2 linked regions of the Homo sapiens genome follow. The protein of the gene in region 2 purifies or fractionates together with the protein of the main gene of each other region. This does not show direct contact. Each region holds a gene or a part of one and is shown on either strand. Other genes may lie near its edges.

Region 1 (3,500 bases), on a different chromosome or scaffold from region 2:
GATAAGATTGACCAGATCATCTAGTAATTTCTGATTTACTACAAAACATATCACAAATGAAAGGTGCCCATGAAGTTTTGTGAGAAAACTTGGAACCTAGGCCCAGATCATTCATTATGGTGATTAGTACTGCTTTTGTAATTGCCTGAATTAGCATGTCTCTTAGATGAGGGACCTGAGCCAAGAAAGACCTTAGAAGTCTGGGAGGTTTGAACCAGAGACCCAACGGTCTTGAGAATTTGCCTAGGACCAAGACCAGATTCTCAAGATGCTTTCTGTGTGGTAGGAAATAAGATTATGACTGTTTTATGGAAACAAGGAGCTAAGTAAAGTTAGGCACATCCAAGAAGGGCAAAACTGTTACTTTAGGAGAAGGGGCTTGGAAGCTCAGTTTTGTTGCTTTGGTTGGGATTTTCAAGATCGGAAACATTTTTATGCTGTATATATTTTGGGGATTTTTTTTCAAAAGTAAAATATTTCTTCTCAAAAGTAGATTCTGTGCTTCAGAATTTAATTACCACAAGGAGTCAGAAAATCAACACTACAATCCAGCTTCCCAAACAGAAGACTATATTTCCCATTATCTCAATCTTTATCACTGTACGTACCCTGACCCTAGACTCTAGTGTAGAACAAGTAGTTAAGGGAAGAGAGATTAAAATGGTTACTCATGCTGATGATACTCAAATGCAAACATCAGTCTGGCTTAATTATGCTAAAAAAGAGGAGACAAATATTTGAGTGCCTGCTAAATATCAAGAATGTCTTGGTATTTTCACATATAAGGAATTCTCTCAACAAGAGGGGAGATATTTGTCTAAACTTGGATCAATACTTTCAAGAGAAATGAAGGTATCTCAGGCACTTCTCATTCAGGAAGCGAAGAGAAATGAAACCAAGGGAAGGTGGAGAATATAGGACAACTGTACAGTTGCTTTAAAAAAAAAAAAAAAGATGGGATTCTCATTATATTGCCCAGGATGGTGTTGAACTCCTGGCCCCAAGTGATCTAGATAATTCTTTGTTTTGTTTTTATAAGGGAGGGTCTTTTCTAACAGTGGGCTCTTTGATTCCTGTGAGACAGCAGCATTTTGTGTTTCTCTGTTTGCTTCATTGGATGCATTACAATTAAACCTGTGCCTGACTAAGGAAACTAAGTATGCACTAATGATGGGAGACGAAACAACAGGGCTTTTTATTTTTTTTTAATGGTAACTCCTATCCACTACCCATGTTTTATATAGTCCCCATGTTTGTTTGTATTTTTTTGTACAGAGAGGGTCTTGCTATGTTGCCCAGGTTGGTCTCGAACTCCTGACCTCAAGTGATCCTCCTGCTTTGGCCTCCCAAAGTGCTGGGATTACAGGCGTGAGCCACTGTGCCTGGCTGAGTCCCCACGTTTTATCCCATGTTTTCTAACAAAAAGAAGAAAGAAACAATGACTGCTTGACAATGACGGCTAATTCCTCCTTTCTTCCCCATCTGGATGTGTTCACAACTTTCTATCATCCAAATCTAGACAAACTAAAAATAAAAACCTACACTTTGTGACCAAAGTCTTCCTTGATTAGCTGTTAACTGCTTTTCATTTGGACTCAGGAAGGCTAAAGACTAGGCCATAGGAGGAGTGACTAACTTATTCTTTAGTCAAACAGCACTGATGCAGTTGTCAGCAATGCCCCTGTGACTGAGGAAAGTATTGTTTTACAAAGTTTTTAATATTTTATGGCATAATAACAGTGAATCATATTAGAATTCTGGTGTAGGCTGGGCACAGTCACTCACGCCTGTAATCCCAGCACTTTGGAAGGCCTAAGTGGGTGGATCACCTGAGGTCAGGAGTTCGAGACCAGCCTGGCCAACCTGGTGAAACCCCGTCTCTACTAAAAATACAAAATTATCCAGGTGTGGTGGCGCATGCCTGTAATCCCAGCTACTCGGGAGGCTGAGGCAGGAGAATCGCTTGAACCTCAGAGGTGGAGGTTGTAGTGAGCCAAGATCATACCATTGCACTCCAGCCTCAGCAACAAGAGCAAAATTCCATCTCAAAAGATTCTGGTGTATTATTATTATGACCTGATATCATTCTAATATTAAGCTCTGTATTATTGCAGGTAAAAATAAAACGAGTTTTTGCCAAGTAAAATTTATACTTAATTCTGTATCACAAGAGTCTAATTTTTAGTGTTAAAATGAAGTTTTCTCTGAAAATATGTTTACCTTATACTTGATATGCTATCTAACAGAGAAAAATAGTTCTTTGGAAACACTCATCAAACAAAAACCTATAGCCTGTGCAAAATAACATCAAATGTACTGCTGAGAGATCAGTTTTGCATCAAAATGGTCCCTGACCATCACATTATAAAGCAATAGCAATAAACACAGAACATTTCATAATTCTTATCTAGGTTGGGCAGGAATAGGAGGGAAGGTCTAGAAAAATCAGATACTCAAATTTCAGCACATAATTATTCAAATAAAATTTTAATGATTTCAGTTCCTGAAAATGTAGTGTCATTAAAGGTCATTTCCTGCTAAATTTCAAATTACAGATTTGTGGGCCATTCCTGAGCAGAAGCATCATTTCTACTAAATATTCAGCTTGTTAACTAAGGTAACTGACAGTATCATGGCAGGAGGTGAGAAGGAGCAATGATCAGCTCATAGCTAAGAAAAGGGAAAAAAACAATAACCAAAGCAAAAAACAAAATAGCTACAGATATTAGTAAAATAATAATACAATCCCAAACATCCACCTCTTAAATTACTACAAAAACAATACCAATAAAGTTATAGCAAATACAGTCTTCACAGATTTGAGTAACTTTATTTGCATTTTATAGTGATTTCTTAAGGCCTATATCCAATGAAACCATTTTAAAAGCTCTATGAGGAGTGGAATTTTAGATGTCTATTACACTTGTCTTTTAAAAGAAAAATGCTTAAATTTCAGAATGAGCAAGATTCACTTTTGTAGGTAGAGGCCCTGCTTCTTCATGATCTTCAGTTTTAGATCTAACAACCACAAGAGAAGAAGCTGGATATCTGTTTAGCTTTTGTTCATTCATAAACTCCAAGTCACCATAGATACTCAGCTTCTGCAAAAGAAAACCAATGTACATTAGTAGTCTGGATAATTAGGAACCTCTCCAAGTTAGTCTTTAAATAACAATTTAATTTATAAATAGTTGGTAAAAAAAATTCTATAAACAACTTTAAGAAAGAAGAATACTTTTTCTCAAAGTGTTGTAGATATGTGATTCAGCTCCCAATGGATGGCCAAAGAAAGCTGTTCCACGTCTCAAGTTAAAATCCTCAGGAGTATAACAATTGGGTATCAAGAAAAACAGCTATGGATGCCTTAAGTGATCAAGTCCTTCAACATCTTAGCTCTCCTACCAAGTGGTAAAATAATTTGGTGCAAGTTTTTCTGCTCCTAAATGTTTTAGCTTAACATGTATGGAAAATGATAGATGCTATTTGAAAAGGCTGCGAGA
Region 2 (4,030 bases):
TGACTTGCTCAAAGGCACACAGATAGTTGGTGACCAAACTGTCACTAAAACTCAGGTCTTGAGTTACTTCCCCCCTCTGAGCATGTTTCTTAGTCTGTGGAATGCACATAGTCTCTTCCTCACTGCATTCTTGGCTAAGGTGCACCCTGCACCCTTCTCTCTTCACTTCTCTTTGTTTCCTCTCGTAACCCTTTAACAGACGACTTGAGGCAGGAAGCGGGGACTCTGTTTCAGAGGTGGATACACCAAGATGTAGTGAGCAGTCTTTAGAAGAAAGAGAGTGGGCAGAACCCAGCCTTGCATGGCAAACCAGTGTCCAGGGCCCCCAGGGTAGTCACCCTTGGTCAGAGATGGGTATCAGAGAGGGGGTCCTGCAGCAGGGACAGCAAGGAAATCTGAAGACGCTCAGGAGGCAAGGATGGAATCAGGAATGCAGATCCGCGAGGGGACGCCCTGTGGGACTCTTGGAAAGGCAGCAGGCACCACACAAGAGCCAGTGGTTTCTCAGAGGTCAGCAAACTGCTGCTCAAGGGCCAAGTCTGGCCACACCCATGTGTGTTGTCTGTGGCCCTTTCATGCTACAGCTACACAACGGTCAAGTAGTATTGGGATTGTTGTGGCCCAAAAGCCAAAACTATTGATCATCTAGCCCCTTACAGAAAAAGGTTGCCAGCTCCTGCTTGAGCTGTCCACGGGCCTGAGTTCAAGTCAAGTGCTGCCCCTTTCTACCCAGGTAACCTTGGGCAAGCCATTTTTCACCTCAGAGCCCCATTTCTGCATCTGTACCCACAACAGGTTTGTTTTGAGAATTTCATAAACTCGTGTCTGTGACCGCATCCAGGCTAAGGAGCAGTTCAGTTGCTTCATGTGCTTGTCACTCCTCTGTGGAGGGAACCAGGGATGTGTAGCTTGATCGGTCCCTGGAGTGGCAGAAGGCAGGCTGCTGGGCAGGATAAAATTTTTGTCTTCCTGGAAAGGATGACTCACAGACCCATGTTTCTTTTCTTTTTTTTTTTTTTTTTTTTTTTCCAGATACTGGCTGACCAACAAAGTCCACATCAAAAGACCCACCACCGGCCTCTTGATGTATACCCTGGCCACACGTTTCTGCAAACAAATCTACCTCTACGGCTTCTGGCCCTTTCCGCTGGATCAGAACCAGAACCCAGTCAAGTACCACTATTATGACAGCCTCAAGTATGGCTACACCTCCCAGGCCAGCCCGCATACCATGCCCTTGGAGTTTAAGGCCCTCAAGAGCCTACATGAGCAGGGGGCTTTGAAACTGACTGTCGGCCAGTGCGATGGGGCCACGTAGGGTGGGCACCCCATGGGACTCAGTGGCTCACATTTCCTGCCAGCTACACCACAGGCAGATGGGAGTCGGGGTGGCACAAACAATAGAACAAGCAGGCTAGTGGTTTTCTTTGTTAAAGTGTAAAACAGTGACCAGAATATATATATCTATACCTGCATATATATATTGACCTGAGTATTTATAACTGTGTGGTGTTCATCTAGCATTAGGCAGATAGGCCACAGGAAGAAGGTGTGGAGAACCCACCTGAACCAGATTGAGACTCAATCCATCTTTGGGGGTGGAAGGACTTGACATGAAAAGAAGCCAGTCCCATGACTTTGGATGACAAACTGCCTCCTGGCTTGGAGGGATCTTTGGGCTCATGGATGAATGGCGAGCCACCTGTTGTCAGCTGCCCCAAGCCTCTGGGATATGTGGATTCGGAGAAAGCTGAGGCCCAGAGGGGACACTCGACCCAGTCTAAAGTGGGTGCCATTCACGGAGGAGAGGGAGGTTGGAGACTTCAACCGGGCAAAGGAGCACAAGGAAACCAAGCAGCAGAGGCCCCATCAGCACAGAGGGCCTCGTTCCACGAACGTAGAGTTTGACTGCCTAAGGGACAGCACGAATGACTCACATGTTTCAGACAGGCCTCCACGGCTATGGAGAGAAGGCTGGAGGAGACACAATGGATGGTTCATGTTCTGGCTTAGCAAGAGCCACCAAGAACTTTGGGTGAAGCAAGCAGATGACAATGAAGAGGAGTAATGTTCCGAATCATGTTTTTGAAAAATCAAGACCTCCTGTTAAGGGCCCACTTGACCCTAGAATAAGGCAGGAGAGTGTCTAAAATCTAGCTGCTTTGGGTGTTTTTTAAAGCAATGTGAGTCCACTGAGGAGGAAGAGACCCTGGGATTTCACCCTCTGGGTTAGTCTCTGTCTCACCCTGTTAGAATGTCACGAGGGACTGTACTGTCCCCTCTGTCACCAGGGAAGCCACAATGAGAGCTTGAAAGGGTGCTGTCAAGATAAATGTCATCCTTCTTAAAATACATATGATTGCCTTTTTGGGTGCCTCACAGAGCCCCAGAGTGTGAGACCTGAAAGAATGTTCAGCATCTAGCTCCATGTCCCTGCAACCACTCTCTGTTTGCCTTCTGCATTCTGCACTCTGCGGGGCCTTTGCAGCCAGACTGCTGTGTCAATGTTACTTTCTTGTCACTTTCCTACCCTGATGGTCACACTAGCCCACCCCAAGCTCCGACATTGAGGTTTTCATCTCTGCAGGGAGAGGTTCCAATGTCCACCCCACCCCCAGGTACCCGCCTCTTCCCACAGAAGCAATTTTAGAATTTTGCAAAATTCTTTTCCCCTTATTGAGATTAATATTTAAGATTAAAAAAAAAATACCCAAAGCCAAATGCAGTTCCAAATAGTGGACATAATCTCCCAGGGAAATCTGGGCTCGAGGCCTACAACTTAGGGGCTGGAATCACAGGTCTCACATAGAGAAATAGCCAGCTTGAATTTGTTAGTCGTATTCCTTCACCTGATGAATAACAGTGTTTTAAAACATATTTGAAAGGTAAGTAAAAAACTACCATCTTGAAGGTGAAGGGAGTTAAGAAAAGTAATCAAGACCTGCTCCTAAGCATATGAGACCAGATGTAATTAATCAATGGCAATGCAGAACAGGACCTTGGCTCTAAATTAATGGTTGACCGGAAGGGATTGGAGGCGGCAGAACCATTAACCCTACACAAGAACACTCCAGCCCAAAACCGTGAGGAAGGTGATATATCTCTGCATTTTCCCTTGTTGTTGCTTGAAGTCTGTGATTGGGGATTTGCGTTATAAAATGAATATTTTAAAAAGCAACAGCCCTAATAGCCTCTGTGGGAACTGAGTGGTTTCGGACTCCTCACAGGCGGTGGAAATAATTAATACCATATTTTATACATCTCCAGAGCCTTTCATCTTGAGGATCTCAAAGACCGTAGAAGACATTTAATTTCTAAAGCTTGAAGTGCCCCGAGGAGCAGGTAGAATTTCCAGCAGGGCCTTGGTGGATTAACCAAGGCCTTGGATTCCAGAATGTTTCATGGTAAGCACTGTGGAGAACCTACATGTCAGGTTCTGGAGTTGGCCCTGAGCTCTATCCACCAAGCCAGCACCCCACCATCCCTTTGCAGGGGAGTCAAAGGGCCAGAACTCCTTGGGGGACCAGAACATGGTTTTCCTTCTGCCTATCTTAGTCATGGCTCCTAAAATTGAAGCTGATATGAGCTGGAGTGCAAGGAGTCCTTCCACCCTGCCTTCAGGTTCTCTCTGGAGAAAGGTTAGAGACCCCAGGACAATCAACATGTGCACCGTTCCCCTCCTCGGCTTGAGTCCTGCACTACCAAAATGGCCTGGCCATTTGATGGCGGAGCTCCAGGGGCCTTGGCTTTCTCTGGCTCATTGTCCTTCTCCATCTGGGCCAATTGTCCTTCCCTGCCCATTCAGAGTTCAATTTGAGCCTCCACTGCAGTTCCTGGTGTGGGCCAGCTGGTGTTGGGTGGCCCCAGGGAGTCACACAGTCTGTACCCGGCCCCGAGATCCTCTGCTGTAACTGCAGGGTCACAGGCATCCCGGGAGAATGGGCCTCCACCCTCAGCCAGCCCTCACTGCTGACAGGCACCCCTCTGTCACCTCCTGCCACCTGTCAGATACCCAGCCTGCCCGCCATCA

What was found.
Region 1: the proteins of ST8SIA2 (region 2) and TMEM59 purify together in Homo sapiens (affinity purification with mass spectrometry; one large-scale study listed by BioGRID and IntAct). This does not show direct contact.

What each region holds. Positions count from the first base shown.
Region 1 is NC_000001.11:54,029,205-54,032,704, forward strand, and holds part of TMEM59 (transmembrane protein 59 isoform 2 precursor), read right to left. Parts: intron 3,102-3,500; coding exon 2,946-3,101; 3' UTR 1-2,945.
Region 2 is NC_000015.10:92,463,068-92,467,097, forward strand, and holds part of ST8SIA2 (alpha-2,8-sialyltransferase 8B isoform 1 precursor), read left to right. Parts: intron 1-1,032; coding exon 1,033-1,318; 3' UTR 1,319-4,030. UniProt on the Homo sapiens protein: Catalyzes the transfer of a sialic acid from a CMP-linked sialic acid donor onto a terminal alpha-2,3-, alpha-2,6-, or alpha-2,8-linked sialic acid of an N-linked glycan acceptor through alpha-2,8-linkages.